2 separate regions of the Homo sapiens genome follow, and region 1 is linked to region 2. A link means that fine-mapping ties the variant in region 2 to the expression of a gene that starts in the linked region. Tissue or cell type: whole blood. Region 2 holds a variant in brackets; the other region holds the start of a gene. All regions are shown on one strand. Distances are between the middles of the regions.

Evidence for each region. PIP is the estimated chance that this variant, and not a neighbour inherited with it, causes the effect.
Region 1: PHACTR2 starts here. The variant in region 2 is fine-mapped to the expression of PHACTR2 in whole blood (TOPMed, PIP 0.96).

What each region holds. Positions count from the first base shown.
Region 1 is chr6:143,675,279-143,680,429 of GRCh38, reverse strand. PHACTR2 (phosphatase and actin regulator 2) reads right to left here and starts at 2,465. Exons shown (of 13, transcript NM_001100164.2): 1 at 2,221-2,465. The coding sequence starts at 2,266. RefSeq lists a silencer at 2,224-2,523 and an enhancer at 2,273-3,121.
Region 2 is chr6:143,538,217-143,543,367 of GRCh38, reverse strand. It overlaps a transcript of PHACTR2 not described here. Among named protein-coding and RNA genes, the nearest start is that of PHACTR2-AS1, 29 kb to the left of the region's middle. RefSeq lists an enhancer at 4,131-4,180. The variant T/G (reference allele first, on the strand shown) is at 2,604.

The DNA.
Region 1 (5,151 bases), 140 kb before region 2:
CCTTTGACTTAAACAGATTTTCGCCCACTAAGCATTTAAGATGAGAATCATCTTTAATACTGTAATCCTAAGCAGCTGCTCCAGACTTAAACAACTAGTCAATGGCTAAGATCAAACAGAACAAGGATCTTCACGCCATCTGTAAAGCCAGAGTTAAACAGTTAACAAGGAGTGAACAAAATACCTGGAATAGTAGAGAGTTTGACAGTCTCAGACTCAGAAAAATACAGACATGAATATAAAACTCAGCAAACGTTATTTAATTTAAATTTTTTTTTTTTTGGTTTTCATTTGGAATCTGATGGCAAACCTTCAGGGAAACAGGGTAGCTCTAACGGATTTAGAGACACTGGATACCACGAGAAAACTGTTCTTTTACAATACCACAACTTAAGTCATAACCACTGTCATTCCTTAACTGAAAAATAAAAAACCCTGTATTTATGATGTATGGATTGGTCATTTCAATTCATACAAACTTTTAATCCGCAAAACTGAGGACCTGCAATTTAAGTATAACACCGTTCCGTGAGATATTTCTCTGAATTATCTTTCATGATCAAGCATAAATTTTTGTTTAAAACACTTTTTACTTAAGTAGATTACAGTTTCTCATTATAATCAGTCATTTTATTTGGAATTATAGCAATCCGGGTTTTTTTGCTGTACTAAGACGTAGGGAGTCTCACTTTAGGATTTTATTTGCTTCTTAGACATCATTTATATAATATTCCTTGATTTTTATTAAGGCAAAATTTGCTTTTCTAATATTCACTCGAGTAATATTTTGTGATAAAATCACTAAATTCAGGACAATACTTTCTGTATACTCTTGTATTGGAGTACAGATTTAATTCTATCTTCGCCGGTGCACAAATGTAAAAATATAACCCTTCCTTGAAATGAAAAGAAGTCTCACACCACTTTAAGGTAAGACAAAGGAAACCAAGTCTTATTTGCACAAAATAGTTTACTAAATTTAAAATCCTACTCAACCCCTCCCCGCAAATATCTCTCAAAAAGCTGTCAACATGAGGTCTTTGATTTCAGAGCTGTAGCCATGTCATTAATGGTAAAGAAGGTATATTCTGATTCTGATGTCTCTTCTTTGCAGAAGGGTCTTCTGTGGTATTAACAGAAACCTCAGCAAAGCTTGTGGTATCTCAGGGAGTGAAGCTGTGCTACCTAAAGAAACCCACTGGGTATAAAGTGGGGTGGGGGGTTGGAATGACAGAATGCTATCTAGCTAGACATCCTGAGGCAGATTAAAAAACCTTCCTCTGTACCCTGTCATTTCCTTTCAGCAAGATCCTGTTGATGTTTGCACAATTTAAAAAGTGTATCAAATATCTCAATGAGTAACATAAACGGTCCCTTCGAGTATTATTTATTTTTAATCGTTGATGGAAAAATATCAAAATAGTACCTTTTAAATTTATTTCCTTATCCAATCACAAGTAACACCACCAAACAGTTTTTTTTTTTTTTATCCCTACACTGTCGGGGAAATGCCAGACGTACCTTCCTTCCCTCTTTTTGTTTAAGAAAATGGAAAAAAGAAACTTTTAAAACAGAGCATTAGAACTCAGACACGTTACACACGTCTCCATAAAACTAACTTTAGTCCTGGAGAACTAAGTTCATGAGATATGTTTCCCTAAATGTTATAGCTGCTGTATCTACTATAAACAAAACAAGTCTCATTTGAAACAATTACGCATTTCGGGGCTAGTTATTAAGTATTCAGCGTCTGCCAGGATAAGGCGATCAGCGCTTCTACTCCGAATAACAAACCATAAATCAGTTGACAAGCTTGAAAGCATTCAGTCCTAGTCTGTTCGGAAGCCAAGCGTAAATACAGAAAAACCTGTTGGCATGTTTCTCTTGCTCTCTAAGTTTCGCGTTTTTAAAAACACTGTAATACGCAAATGGCGTTTCCCGTAAGTTTCTGGCTCCGAAATAATTTGGATAAAAAACCACAGCGAGGCATCGCGCACAGAAAAATGGAGCCTGTGCCTTTAAGGTAAAATCGGCTGGATCCCAAAAGGCATTCCTCTTTCACGACAAAGAGTTTGGCGAGCGCTACCTCTGGGGTTTCTCCGAGGGACTTGGCGGGTCCGAGCGGAACCCGACCAGACGACTAACCCTGCCTGCCCCGGGGCCCCGCCGCCAGCCCTGCGCCCGCGCGGCGGGAGCGCATCGCGTGCGCCCCGGACTCACCGCTGCCGGGCTGCGGGGACAGCGTGGACACCGAGGTCTGGCCCATGACTGGGGTCGCAGGGCCAGGTCCAGCGATCAAGCGGCTCCTTTGGTCCTTCGATCATGGGTCCGCTCCCAGCCAGACTTCCAGGCGTTCATGTCCCGGCCTGTGCCGAGCGGCCCGCCGGGTCCCCTCACCTTCTACCCCGCGCGGGTCTCCCAGCCCGGCCGGCCGCAGCCGGCGCGGCGGATCCTGCCCAGCGGATGCCTGTCATTCCTCTATGCAGATTAGCTGGGGTCAGGGGTCACGGGGGAAGAAGGGGGGTGAGGGCGATAGGGAGGGGAGGAGGGGGAAGCGGGGGGAGGGCGCAGGAGCAGGGGGTGGGGGAAGCCCCCAGCCGGCCCCGCCGCACCCGCACCCCCTCAGGGTGGTAGGGAGTTCAGGCTTTCAGACTACTCCTCTTTGACTTAAAAGGTTCAAAGTCAAATGATCCTTACGGGCTACAAGAAAAGGAATTAAAGTATTTAGTCACGGTACTTAATTTAACAAAATTTGTTTCTTAAAAGTTATTTCCTTCCTTACATTCTATTTGCAGTATTGTGGCACTCTCATGTCTTGTGCCCATTTTTTTCTCGTTTTAAAAATTATCTTCCTTTTAACAAATATAATTTTTTAAAAACGGCACTAATGGCCTCAATCAGGCTTGACAACAAATCTAAATGGTAGGTCTACGTGTGAGATCAACAAAATATACTTTTTGCTGTCTCCCACCTAAAACTCTGGAGTGCTGACCTCTCCTTTATTTCAAAAGAATTACTGTGAAATAAAGTGATTAAAATACACAAAAGGGGAAAAAAACTATAACAAACTTGAAAGGTGAATTAAACCCTTCTATAATATCCTGTTAAATCTCAATCTTCTTAAAAATATGAATACAAATAAATATTCTTCATATTTACAGTTAATGATTAATTAGTATAAGTAATCTTCATGCTATATATATATAATGTGTGTATATATATATACAGTATATGGAACATCTGTATATGGTGCATTAGATTGGATGGTGGTTACTGGATGTGTTCATTTTATGAAAATTCATTGAGATGTCTGTAATGATGTGTGCACTTTGCTGAAGGCATATATTTCATTAAAATGTAAAAAATATCAGAAAGTGCAATATATTTAGGTCATTTACCACAGCTTTCATTTTTTAATTTATCCTAGACAATCAACTCTGAACTAACATGAAAATCATTTTTTTCTAAAATTTTTATTATTAAGATCGTGCAGAGCCTTGTTTGATTTTTTTGAAAGGCACTTACTTGTCTGTTTTGTCATGGTTAATTAAGTTGCCCTATGTTTTTTCACACCCAAATAGCCCACCCACCACTGTGAGGAAGATCTTTTCCCTAAAAAAGTGTGATCCATTGTCTTCTTCCCTTTGCCTAATTCACTCTTAAGAAACACTGATTTTTTTTTTTTTAATGAAATTGAGGATTTAACCAAAATGTGAGTTCTAATTAGGACAATAAAATTAATCCTAACTACATTTCCTTATAAATACAAAAATGTGTTTTGGAAACACATCCCACCTGGGGCGCTAAGCGATGAGAGTAAGCAATTATAATGGCTGGCTCCTCCAGCTCTTTGCTTTGAGTTGCCGTAAGAAAAAAACAAACAAACAAAAGTGGTTAAAGGTAAGTTAAGAGGGAGAATGTTTCACTCTTCCTTTTGACAGTCTTTCTGATAAAGGGAGGTCACTGATCAGAGGAAATATACAGTACCTTTTGCACATTCAAAATATGTAACTGTAATAATTTTTAAATACTGATAAAAGTTAAACTTTAAGGTTGCTATCATTTCTTCTTTTCCTTGAGAAACAATAGCATATTTCTATTACTTCTATAAATTCTTATTTCAAAGATCAAGGAGGTGCACTATAGTTCCAGTTTTTCAGGAATTGCTTAATACAGCTATATTTACCTTATTCAAGACCTTTCATGATTTGCTAGTTAATATAATCTTCAGCCTCATCTGGGATTCCTATAATACCCTAACCAGGTTATGCAATTTTCTCTGAAACTCTTCCAGTTCCATTACATTATCCTTGAAGCATGTCAACCAAAACTGCAGGAAGTGTGCACTAAGTTTTCTTTCTAAGAGTGGGACAGTTCTTGTTCTTGGTTTCTAGAGCTTCTGATGGAACTTGGCATTTAAGTGGCCTTTTTATCACAGCTAACAAGTTATACTAATGAACATAGAAAACGTCTACAGAAATCTCTAAATTTCATTTCTAGGTTGTAACGCAAAGGTTAGATATTATCACCTAACAAGAGAATTTTAAGATAATTTTCCCCCAAATTGCCTTACTCTTGCCTTATTAGAACTCACACAGTTTTACTAAGAGTTCTGGGTGTTAATCCCATGGGTTTATAGTTTAACTCTGGAAACATTTAATGTCATCTGAAAGGCATGGACATTTCTCTGTATACTACCTCTCTCTAGGGAATTTATTAAAATGCTAAACAGGATTAGACCCAATACCTAACTCTGAGGAAGCTATCTATTTATAATTCTTCAGCATTTATCCCATTGGTCCCACCCTTTGTTCTCTATTTCTAAACCAATCTCTTATCCAGTGATATCTTGGTAAATGCTTAACTGGTTTGGGCTGGGGGTGAGGAGGCAGGAGGGGGCCTCAGACTGCTTTGTTTACTGTGATGTAAATACTCCTACAATAACCTATTCTACAGGCCTTCAACCAGCTAGCAAAACTGATATCAAACAGCTTGCAAAATTCCTTGAAATGTAACAATTTGGCCCACCAGCCTGTGTGAACTGCCTTCAGCACACCGCTACTTTTCTCTGTTATAATAATGCCGCATCATATCATACCATGGCTGAGTTTGAGGAATAGCTTCTATTTAGCCTTCCTAAAAATATAGACT
Region 2 (5,151 bases):
ACTAGCCATTTGTTGATTGAAAGAAGAAATGAAAAATCAAGATATGCCCTTGCCTACAGCATCTTCATCAGTACGTAGGGGCCAGAATAAATCCACGGCTTTAATATCTGTCTCAGAGCTGCCACTGAGGTACTGACACAAACTAGAGCTTAACTAGTTTAAGTAAATTAGCTCTTCATGCATCCTCTGAAAACAAGAACAGTCATCATCATCATCATGTTATTTACTGAGCATGATGCAAGGCCTATAGCTTAGATCACCAGAGACACTGCTGTGTCTGGCCTGCCACACCCTTTCTGAGTATCCTCTCTGCTTTCAGTCTAACTCCAGAATCACAGAATCACATCTGCTCACCTTTGTATGCCCAGTGCCTGGAACAGTACCTGGCACATAGCAGTAATCAATAAAGACTAATTGAATGAATGGACGAATGGAAACTGGCCAGGCTCAGTCCCTTCTACATGGCCATGTTGGCACTGTGACTTCATGCTCCACAACTGGTTTCGGCTCCAGTGAGTATCTGATCAAAGGCAACAAATCCAGAGGCACCTATGGGGCATATGATCTCTGTCTTGCTGTATAAAGGTGGCTTCACACAATAGGTCTTTTCTAGAGAATTTGAACTATGAAATATGAAGAAATTTTCCCCAGGTAAACACAAGGCAAGAGCTAAAAGGAAACAGAGGAAGATTGCTGTCAGGTAGGTAGGACCCCTGATGTGCCATTTTAAGCAGATGGATGAGGAAACACCTATGAAGGAGAGATAATCTGTTTTGATTAGAGAATAAGAAAGCTGGTCAACAGAGAGACAAACAGAAGCTCAAGCCTGCTGAAACCATGCCAGCCTAGGAAAGGGCTAGAGAAAGAGGAATTGGTTGCCTCAATTCCTGACAACTCTCTGGTGTCAGCCCCAGGTCAGGTGCAATCTGACCTAATAAGGACCTCCTGACTTAACAGGTGAAGCCAATTTTTCAAATGTGCCAAGCTCTGATACAGGACTGTCATCAGCTGCTATGGTAACTTGGTAAGAATCAGATAGGAGATGCCCCTTCTGGAATGAAGCCTGACCGGCGGTCAGGCTCCTGGGTAGATGAGAAGCCCATGGCTTTTGTGCAAAGAAAAGGGTGCTCTCCCTGGGGGAGAAGGAAGGCACACATGTCCACACCAGGTACACAGCTTGACCTGGGCAAAGCGCAGGCTGGACCTGAGCCCACCAGCACCTGCTCCATCCAGCACCCTCTTGTACTGTCCGAGCTGGCCTGGGCAGGGTGGCCTTGCTATTCCCTGACCAGGGAGAGACAGAAAGTAAACTTAGAACCAGATGGTCTTTGTTTGGAAAAAAACCCACTCTGAGTTACACAAATGTAAAGTGAGCAGGTGTTCATTGTTCCTGGCCTAGGGCACCTCCAGCTTAGCTCGTGGCTGGGGCTCAGAAGCCTCTTGGGACCCAGACACCCTTTCGGAGCACAAAGCATCAACTCAAAGAGTTACAACCTTGGAGGTCAGTAAGAAACATAGTAGAAGCACCAGCAAGGGATAAGCAAGCACAAGCTTCCCCCAACAGCACAGGTGACCCAACAGCAGAACTGGTCTTGGACAGCAGTATCTCATGGAAGTGGCCAGGAAGCAGTGCATATGAACTGATAGTACATTGAGGTATGCGAGATTTCTCACTTCCACTCAGCACTGAACACACCAGGAATTAAAGATTTGAGAAAAAGATCCTGGATTTGCTGTTACCCCTATGCCTATATATACCAGGGCATAGGGATACTGAAGAGATGAATCACAGTAATAAAAAGATGAGATTGTACTTGCACATTAAGCTAATGAAGTGGTCCACACACCTATACTGCTTTTTTTGGAGGTGGCTTGAATGGTTCTCTGATCTATGCAGCCCAATGTGCAATGTGCAAGACTAAGCATCATCACATGAAAATAAAAACATCTTTTGGTCCTCCCTATAGCCCACACAGGTCCAGAACAGCACCTGGCACCCAGTAGGCCAACAGTCGGTACTTGCTGAATCTTTACATGGTCTATGCCCCTGGCTGTGTGTCTTCAGGTTCTTTACTTACTAAACACTGTGCTTATCAGAACAGCACATCAGAAACCACTAAAAAGTTATCAAAGCTCCTTAATACCGAACAGGATCTGTCTAAAACTTAAGAGAATACATGACCATATACTATGAGAACCTTGTTTCAAGATTTTACTTTAAAAATTGAGTTAAACATCACTTTATTTACAAAGAAATACTGGATTTTAAAAATCCAAGGCTGGGAGCAGTGGCATGCGCCTATAACACCAGCTACTCAGGAGGCTGAGGCAGCAGGATCCCTTGAGCCTCAGGGTTTGAGGCTGCAGTGCACTATGGTTGTACTGGCGAACAGCCATTGTACTCCAGCTTGGACAACACAGCAAGACTCCATCTCAAAAAAAGAAAAATAAATTCAGAACTTTTGTTGAATTCCAGAAGTGTGAGTTCAAAAACCATATGGCAAAATGAATCCACGTTTTTATAAACATAATAAAAGAGTTTATTCATAAATTCCACTGTTACTTCAATTCTATCTTTAAAAATTGCTTATTTGAAAATATTT[T/G]GTTTTCTTAACTTTTTTGTATAGATTTTGAAATATAAAACTGGCTTGGGTTTTTTTTTTCTGATAAAGCACTTGCATTCTTATGTGAAAAATTCCTCAAGCCACAAATTAAATAAAATCCCTTGAAGTCTGAGACGCTTGTCTTGACAAAAATCTAGTAATAATCTAGCATAGTCAGGGGAAGCCGATTCTCTTGGGGTACCCTCACGGTATTTATCAACACAGTGCTAGCACAGAACAGGTCTTTAAAAATATATATTTAGTATTAGACTGACTGTTTGCAGCAGTGGGCAAGATTTTAGAGGCTGAGTTCCAAGTTTTTATTATTCTTTCCTGGAAAGAAGGATGGAGGTGGAGCTGTGGGGGAGGCTGGGGTAATGATTGCAGGTAGCAAGGATGGTCTGTCGTTCTGGAGGGAGGCTGTTCTCTGACAACTCTTGGCAAGCACTCTTTCTTCCCCTTCCTCTTCTCCATTTCAGGTCACTGTCACTGCAAAAGGTGATTTCCTTTTCCCCTCAACACTCTTCTAAGGACCCACAGCAGGGAGTTAACTCATGATTAGAAATTATCCCTTAGGAAGAACATCTGACAACTAGCTGGAATCAAAAATAGGAGCAAGGAAGGCTGCTTGGGAGACTGCAGTAGTAGAAGAGAGGATGTAGCAATAGGGATGTGAGAAGGTACTAAAACAAATTCTTCAAACTTACACTTGTATCACGGTATCACAAGACATACGGCAGCAAGCCAGGGTGACATAATATGGCACAGGACAGCAGTTCTCAAACTTCGCTACTCATTAGCGTCATCTAATGGCCAGGATGCACCTGATGCCAATGAAATCAGAATCCCTAGGTGTGCGACCCAGCCACAGGTTGCTTCGTTGTTAACTCCCCAAGCAATTCCTACGTGTAGCCAAGTTTGAAAACCAGTGTGGGAGAGCAGCACTTTTCAAACTGCAAGGTGACTAAGAACAACCTGGGGATCTTATTAAAATGCAGATTCAGTTAAGCAGGCCTAGGGTGGGGCCTGAGATTCTGAGATGAGGCCACAGATGCTGGTCCGGGGCTGTTTTGGCAAGCCACACATGACCTTGCTCTAGGTGCTGCCTCTGTGTGTGCCCAGAGCTTCTGGAGAAGGGCTGGAAATTGGGCTACTATAGTGTTAGGCCAAGGAATGTTTTTACAAGGCGTGTAACCCTCTTATTGTGCCTCTGAGATAATTCAGAGATCCCAGCACAGTCATCTTGCTGATTCTCAGATCCATCCTGCATGGCTTACAGAGGCTGCAGAGGCTGTGGGGCATGCTGGAGAAATACTCTGTGTGTCAGTGAAGGACCTGCTCATTCTTTTTCTCTCTGACTCTAAGAGCAGGGAGCTCCTGATCACATTTAGTCTGCTCTTAAAGGGATCCGAGGCTCAGTTCTGAAAATGAAATCAGGTACATGAAAGATGTTCACTCTTCTACATCTGTGCCAGCATCCTGCGGCACATGGGACAACTGAGCTGAAAGGTTTCACTTCCTAGCATCCGTTAAGAGGACACAGAAAAGACAAAGAGTCCTCAGAAGTAAAATAATTTTATAAATTGGAGCCCATGGTTCACATGATGTACACTTTGCACACTCACATTTTAAATGTCTTTGCTGTCCTTTTTCGGCATACAGGCCATAATTTCCATCCATGAAAATGAAAAATGGCGATGCAAGCTATACTTTGTCTACAATCACCAACTAGGTGAATTCTCAGTGGTCTCTTTAGAGTCTCTGAACAGTTAATCTTTGTAGAAATCAATCAAAATAATCCATGGCTCGAGTTCAGTTTGGCCAGCACACCAAGAGCAGGTGGTTAAAAACATTCGGACTCAATGCTTTTCACAATACAAATTCAGAGGATGAATCTTTACACAAATCCCACTACCTCTATTCTAACAGTTCTGACTTGTTTCATCCAATGCGATCTACAAAGTCACAACGGCAATGCTTTTGAGGTTTTTCAAGTACACATGTTGGGCGGCAAAAACAATATGACAAGAATAAGAAGACAGAAGGCTATGGTGAGAGAGTTAGCCAGCTGAAGTGGAGTCAGAGGCATGGAAATGTGCTTTTTTGAACAGGAAGCTCAGCTTTAGCTGAGGTTGAGTTAGAACCCAAAGAAGGCCTGATCCCGGAGCACAGAGCCTGAAAACCAGGGCAGTGGTAGCTGGTACAGTGCACGTTCACGCCCCGGCAGGGCTTTTGCCGCTATGGGTAGTTTTTGATGCTAGCTAGCTTCATTTCTAATTTCCCAGCTCCCATGCATCCTACAAAGATTGCACATCAGACAACTGGTGGAAACTTGACGCATCTGGTGGACTTTTAAAAAACAGTCCTACAATTCTTAGGCTAATGCTTTGTTCAAAAGCAGTTTAAAATGATTACTTAATCCACATAACCTCCCAATGTGGTGGTACCATACTATGATTCCCACTCTGAATACTGAGATAGGAGAGACAAGGTTAAGTGATTTGCCCAACGTCACACAACTCGGCCGGCAGCATCGGCCTTAGCTGAG